2 linked regions of the Homo sapiens genome follow. The protein of the gene in region 1 interacts with the protein of each later gene in a biochemical or structural test. Each region holds a gene or a part of one and is shown on either strand. Other genes may lie near its edges.

The links. The genes of interacting proteins can lie anywhere in the genome.
Region 2: the proteins of RRBP1 (region 1) and FRMPD3 interact in a test that uses a peptide from one of them, tested with the Homo sapiens proteins (one large-scale study listed by IntAct).

Annotation. Positions count from the first base shown.
Region 1 is NC_000020.11:17,613,179-17,616,242, forward strand, and holds the end of RRBP1 (ribosome-binding protein 1), read right to left. Parts: intron 2,832-3,064; coding exon 2,748-2,831; intron 2,352-2,747; coding exon 2,253-2,351; intron 1,703-2,252; coding exon 1,559-1,702; intron 1,043-1,558; coding exon 1,004-1,042; 3' UTR 501-1,003; downstream 1-500. UniProt on the Homo sapiens protein: Acts as a ribosome receptor and mediates interaction between the ribosome and the endoplasmic reticulum membrane.
Region 2 is NC_000023.11:107,448,249-107,452,451, forward strand, and holds the start of FRMPD3 (FERM and PDZ domain-containing protein 3), read left to right. Parts: upstream 1-1,403; 5' UTR 1,404-1,757; intron 1,758-4,203.

The DNA of each region.
Region 1 (3,064 bases):
CTGAGGGTCGTGGCAAACCTAAGCTGGTTTCTGCAGGTGAAACTCCACCTCCCGAGGGCAGGCAGTGGGCTGCTCCAGCCCTGGCCCACCCTCCTGGGGTGTGGGTGTCTAAGCCCCAGCCAGGACAGAGACCCCTTGTTCATTCCCGGACCTCCATCACGCAACAGCCCGGGCCACCAGCCGCGCTCACAAACCTCAGCCCCTCCGGGATGCGGGGCAGCAGTAAATGTATCTGGCTCTCAGGTGTCGCAGGCCCTGCTCCCTTATCCTGCCCGGAGGGCACTGAGGTCTGGGAGGTGACAAGGAAAACTGCTGGGGGCCCCGGAAGCAGCGAGTCTCAGCCCCACCCCACGCTACGCGGAGCTGCAGAGCCTCTGCCTTCAAAGCAGCTGAGGCCCACGCTTACTCTCTTCCCGAGTGCGCCCCCACCCCTTGGTTCTTCATCTTGGGCCCAACAGCGGGTGGGGGAGCCCCAGCAGAAGACCAGACGAGACCGCAGCACCGGGCACCAACGTTGGTTTTAATGGCATCAACACCCAGGAGGTCACACGTCAGTTCTGGTTGGCAACGTCTAGGGGTGAGGGGCTGTGGCCTCCAGTCGGCCCCACAGCCTTTGAGAACTGGCTGCCCGGTCCCACCCGCTTCCCGCCCCGCCCCACTGAAAAAACACTAAACGATTGCACTGACAGACAGACCCCAGAGCGCCCGGCCTCCCACACACCCACGGGGCTGTCAGAGTCAACCAGGGCTTTGGCGTCACTCGGCGGTGGCCCGGGGCTGCGCCCAGGATAGTGTTTATCAAATGTGACACAGGTTCATTTACAAACTGGGGCTCTGGAAGGTCTACTTCTGTGGCTCTAAGAGACTTGTCTCTCATGGCTTCTCTCGGAGCTACCGGAAGTTGGGCCTGGATAACGCTGTGTAGGTTGGTTGGTTTATTTGTAAGGAATGTGTAAGGCATTTTGGTAAGTTGAACAGTAACTTCTTTTTCCAAAGAGGAAACTCAGACAGAGGTGCCCTCCTTTGAGCTGCTGCCGTCCTCCTGTGAACGAAGGCAGGTGGCGTGAGGGGGGCTGGGCCACGAGCCATGGCAGAACCACCTGCCCTCTACCCTGGGCCTTTAGTCCCTCCCTGGATTGACCCCCTCAAGCCACTCCAGTCCCTCAGAGAACAGGAGCCACAGACCCCTGGGGCTGGGGGACAGGGAGGACTTGGTGGGAGCTGAGGGGAAACCATCATCCTGCAGGGCAGGGGCTGGAGCACTGGCTAAGGGGCCCACACAGGTGCAAAGTGAGGACCTGGGCCAGCAGGGGGATCAGACACTCGCTTCCCAGCAAGGGAACCCCAGAAGGGTGGGTGGTGGGCCGGGTGGGCTGAAGCCCTCGTTAGGAAGTCTCTGTCCCCACTACCTCCGCCCAGCTCTGCCTCCCCTGGGGCTCCCAGCCCAGCGCTCCCAGCAGCTTGACGACTCCGCCCAGCTCTGCCTCTCCCGGTCCTGCCTCCCCGGGGCTCCCGGCAGCTCGACTCCTCCCGCCCTGCTTTGGCGCCAGGCACGCACTGCCTTTTCCAGCTGTTCCTGCAGCTTCTTCACCGTGTCCTTCTCCCTTGCCAGCTGCTCCTGGGTCGTCTTCAGAAGCTCCTGCAGTCTCGTGGCGGCGCGCCCCAGGTCACTTGTTAACTTCTTCTCTTTTTCTAGTCTCTCCTGATGGTCAGAAGGTTGACGGGCATCAGCCCTTGCACCGGCAGGAGGGCCACCCCAGCTATGCCCACAGGACCCTGACGCCAGGGGCTGGAGCCCTCTGGGGACACAAGGAAGGCAACTCCTGGTCACCCGGAGATAGGTGGTGACGACAGGGAGGAAACCGCCCATGCTGACCGTGAGGGCTGGGTCCTGTGCTCTCAGCACCACCAGAACTTCCTGGGGCAGGAGCAGTTTACTCCGCACTGTCCAAGGCAGCACAGGAGACACACCTGACTACTGAGCGCTGGACGTGTGGCTGAGGAACGCACTTCACGTTCTACATGCTTCACATTTCGACAGCCACCAGGACTAATGGCTGCCATGTGACCATGTGACACTGCAGGGCTAGGAGTCCCCACCCCAGCCCCGGGTAGTGACAAGGGGAACCAGTGCCAAGGGCAGGTCCCGGTGGGGTCGGCTCTCCCCTTCCTGGCCCCTTTCCGAGGCCAAGAGTGGCGCCAGCCCCAGAGCAGACCCTCCAGGTGTGACCCCCGCCCCAGCCCCTGCCTGCCTTCAGCTGTGAGGCCTCCTCTGTTTCTGAAGACTCTAGGGGGCCGGCTGTGCGGAGCTTCTCCAATTCTTCTTGTAACCGACATGCCGAGGTCTGAGCCTTGCCGGAGAGGGAAGTGAGGTCTGGGTGAGACGTCTTATAAACGGCTGTGCTGTCAAGACCCTACCGAGCACGCCTGGGGACCAGGGGGCCCCCCCAGCCTGATGGAGCAACAGCTCCATCCTGTAGCTGGAATGAGTGGGCCAGACCCACAAGTTCTGACCCAGCCCCAGGCCCTCAAGGCTCCTCAGGGATGCAGACCACCCACAGGGCTCCCAAGGTGCCTCCAGCCTGTGCTCCACCTGCCCGGGCCCCACCCACTGCTGCCCAGAAGGCCCAGGCCCAGCCCAGGTGCTGCTGGGCACAGCCGAGCGGGGCAGGGCTGACCCACTCATTCCCTGGAGACTCAGGGCCCAGGGGCTGATGGGGGCTGAGAGCCACCAGGCAGGGCCTGACCTCCTCAAACTCGGCCGTGAGCTTCTGCCGCTGTGTCTGCTCATCCTCCAGGATGGCTTCTGTCCACTCCAGCTGCGTCTTCAGCTGTGCAAACACCGCAAACATAACCCGGCAGCCCGGTGAGGAACCCTCCAGGGGCCCAGGGATCCAGCACAGGCACCGCTCTCTAGCTGCTTCTAGCTTCCCCTTTCCCTGCCCCAACGCTCCCCTCGTTGGGGAGAGGGCACCTCAGCCCCTGGTACAGACTTCGGTGTGGCTCAGGAGCAGCTGATGGGGCCTCTGCAACCTCAGGGGCCTTTAACGAGACTCACAGGACA
Region 2 (4,203 bases), on another chromosome or scaffold:
TCTGTATCCTGGAAATTCCGTGCAGCCTAGGAGAACAGCCCTTGTCCCACAATTGCCCCTCAGTAGCCCTCCGGCCTCTTCTGAAGCTTTAACCAAGTGCTTGAAAAGAACCGAAAGTGAGGAAATATTCCAACTAGAATGGATCCCTTTGTGCCAACAGCCTCCTTTAGAGTTCAGGAACACAGAGGAAATCGAGGAGGGCTGACTTTTCACCTTAGAACTCACAAGGCCCAAATGTGCCAATGTTTAACTGTCTCTCCGAGGTGCTTCTGACACCCGGAAATTCACCATGTATTTGGCATCACCAGGAGCTCCTCAACTCCACTGCTTCCTCCTGCTTCTCTCTTCCCTGGCCTTAACTTCACCACCCAGACCCACTGTCCAGCTTCCCAGTCTCTCTGGGTCCCCACTGAGGCTGCCCTTTTTGGGGAAGGAAGAGTGGCCTTTTTTCTTGGCCCTCAAAACTCCTCTGAAGGGGTCTGGAGCCCGCTGGGAGACCAAGAGCTTCTCTTGAATCTCGGCTGCTGCATGTTTAGTATTCACAGCATGTCTCTAAAAAACGTCCTGAGATCATTCATCAGGCACTGTGCTGTGTGCCTAGCTGCTCTCCTTCCGGGTGTGTGTGTGTGGCCAGGACCCTCCCTCCATCTGCTGGTGAACACACATGCACACACACCTTAACCTTTTTCCCTTTTCACCAAACCAATCGCATTTTCTAAGCAGACCTTTGCCAGCTGGCAGATCGCTCCCTTACTGAGGTGGGCTCCTGGCGTTGGGCCTGGGCTCGAAGCCGCTCACACTCCAGTGCTGGGGAGAGGCGCTGAGAGCAGGAGCCCGAGCCGAAACTCAAGGTGCGTGTGGATGTTTGCGATGGTGACCAGGAGGGGAGCTGCAGGGAGGGCATCCCCAGCAGAAGGCGAGCAAACAAGGGGCGAGAAGCAAGGTCAGGGGCCAGGGAACGGAGTCTCCGAAGCAAGCGTTCCTGCTGCCCCTTCTCCGCAGTTCACTCCCCGCCCCCCTTTCCCGGGTTCACTTTGGAAATTGGCTTGCCCTCTCGGCAGCCAGCAGTTCCCGGCAGAGTCCGGCCGTAACGGTCAGATTCAAGAAGTGAGGCAGCGCCAGGCTGGGTGGCTGGGTTGCTGGGTTGTTCTTGGGAGATTCTTTCCCCAATTGTCAATTTTTTGCTTATTTTTAGTAGTGACCCGAGCCAGGAACTGCGCCTTTAAGCCGCTTTCCCATTCGGGGAAATCGACGCCAGCACTCGAGGGTCGGGAGGCGCCGGAGAGGCCCCTCATTCTGCACTCCCCTCTTTCCTCCCCCTCCCCCTCCCCCCGCCCCTTCTCCCCTCCCCTCCTCGGCCGTCCGGCCGCCTCGCCGCCATCCGTCACCTCGCAGCCTGCCGCACTCCTGGAGCGAGAGAGCGACGAGCGAGCCACGGCGATGGTGCCGCCCGCGGCGCAGCCATGAAGCCCGCCCGAGGAGCCCGCGCGCGCTCCTGCCATCCTGCCCGCAGCCCGCCGCCTGCGCGCCAGCTCCCCGCGTCCCGGGCCAGCTGCTGCCGCCCTGCCAACCTCTGCCCGCCCCGCCGCCCGGCGCCACTGAGCCCCAAGCCCATGCCGGGCTCGGGGGCACGGGTGCCCTAGTCCCGCTGCCGCCGCCGCCGCCGCCGCCGCTGCGCCGCCGCTGCCGCGCCGCTGAGGAGGCGGAGGAGGAGGAGGAGGAGGAGGAAGAGGAGGAGGAAGAGGAGGGGGAGGAAGGTAAGAGGCGCGCTGCCTTCAGGGGGGCGCGCCCGCTGTCTCAGCCCAACCGGGGGTGGGTCGCGGCGGGAGCGTTCCGCCCCGGGCCGGCTGGGGGGCGACTGGCGCTTGGGCGCCCCCGGGAGCCGGGGGCAGGGCGGGGGGCGCCGAACGTCTGGCCGCCCGGAGTTTGGGCGGGCGGGGTAACGGCCCGTTGCGTGCCCACTGCCCCGGCGAGTCTCTGGCTTGGCGGGCTCGTTTGGCCTCCGCGGGTGCGGGGTGAGGAGTCGAGCGCAGGGGAGTGCAGCGCGTTCATTATGGAGCCTTTGTGTGCGCGCCTGGGCTGTGGGCACAGTTGGGAGAGCTGGCGAGACGCGGGGCCTGGCTGCTAGGAGGTGGCCACTTAGCCGGGGTGCCCGGCGAAGCCCGAGCCCAGGGGCTGCCAGAAACAGCTGTCTGAAGCATGTGCGTGGTTCCCGGGGCCATGTTCACAAGCGGACACGGAGGCGCACACACACGCACACACAGCCGCACAACATACCCGGCGCTCAGCCACACAGTCAGCCCCATGCAAAGACCACACACACACACACACACACACACACACACACACACACAGAGAGAGAGAGAGAGAGCGCGAGCTACACTTGCCCCCTCCCACCAAGATGCTAATAAAGCTCAAACACATATACAGATACATGCACCTCCCCCTAGCGCTGCTAAAACATGCACACACAAACACACTCCTCTACTCCCCAGCCTAGTGCTTTGGAGGTTGGAGAGTGTGTGTGTGTATGTGAGTGTGTGTGTGTTTTCTCAGAGTGGTCTTGAGAAACTACATGACAACTGCACATTACTGCAGATCCAGTACCTGCTGCTTCCCCCCAATACACACCCAGCAACCCCCCGTCACACGCAGCTACTGTAGACACCTCCACCAGAGCCCTTAAGAACCCCATTCTGGCAAAAAGCGTGCCCAACTCTGGTAGTCATACCCTCCACGCTCGAGCTGTTGGGTTTCCTGCACACACACACCACAGCCCCATACACACACACTGAAACCACTGCAGGGGCAAATGTTTGACACCTTCCCCCAGAAGCAGGTGGCACCTCCACCCTTGCAGCTGCAACTAAAGAGCCCCAGATGACAGCAAACGCCGAATTCTGCTAGACCTGCCCCTCCCCTTGGCATCTTGGTCCAGGTGCAAAACCCTGGAGTCCACCGGGTGGTCTTAGCATCCTGCAGCTCTTACGGAGGGCGGGGCAGTCTCTGGACTCCTGCCTTCGGAGGAACTGCTATAAGCGCAAGGCTCCCTTGGGGGCGCCCTTCTCGAAGTGGAGGGTGGGGGATTCTATGCTGACTCAGAGCGAAGCACCAAGTGAGTTTTCCCAGCTGGAGACCGGGGTAAATGGCGAACTCCACCTGGGCCTAGAGGACCCGGGATAGTGTGCCAGTTCAGCCACAGAGGCCCTCAGCTTGGAGGCCCTGCCCCTCCCTCGCCTTCCTTGCCCATGAAGCTCACTGCAGGAGAAGCAGGGGGAACCCAGCTGCCAGCTTCTTGGGAGCTAAGAGAGGCTTTTCGGGAAGCCTTTGCTGTTTCCGCTGAGCAAAGAGATCTTGCTCTACCCGGGGAGACCTCAACAAGACTTGGCCGTGCCCAAGCAAACATGCCAGCGTCTACCCAATTTCATGGCTTGTTTTTTTGTTTGTTTGTTTTTGTATTTCATGTGAAAGGACTAATTCAACCTTAGCAGCTTGTCATGAAGGCACCCCTGAGGTTAAATAAGGCATAATGTATTGTGGATGGGGGAAACAAGGTTGAGGGGAGCAAGGACTAGTGGGTTTTACTGTTTTAAGTAGAGATGCGGAGTTAGAATGTAGACCGTGGTAAAATCGTGACGGCGATGGCTTCTACGTCAGAGCCCCTTCCCTGCTCCTGCCCCTCCCGTCGGCTGCTCAGGGCTCCTCTGGGTCCTCTCCCCCGCCCCCTTAGATTATTTAGGCGGGGCTTTGCTCACTGCTCGGGCAAATTTGATGACAGAATCCCTGCCAGGCCAAGGTGTTAATAGCTGATAGAGGTTTACTGCTTACACCTCACAGGTAACATTTGCATTTTTAAAGGACACAGAGGAGTGACTCTGTTGGTGGGGCTTTCAGGCACCTGTGGCAGGACTCAGGCAGGAGCAGTTTGTGGACAACCTCATCTGTCTACTCTACTGTCTGTGCCTAGGCCAGAGTTATGGGTGATGTGTGTGTGGGAGTGAGGGTGTCAGAAGGTGAGATGTAATTGTGGAGGGTTTTGAGGCCCACAAAGAGAAGGTTTCAATTGACTTGAGAGGCAATTGGGAGCCACTGCCAGATTCTGAGAAAGGAGGGAATAAGATATAAGCAGGAAAGAAACACTCATTGCTGCATGTGGAGAGAATATCCCCTATCTCTCGCTGGCACCCAACACCACAACCGCCT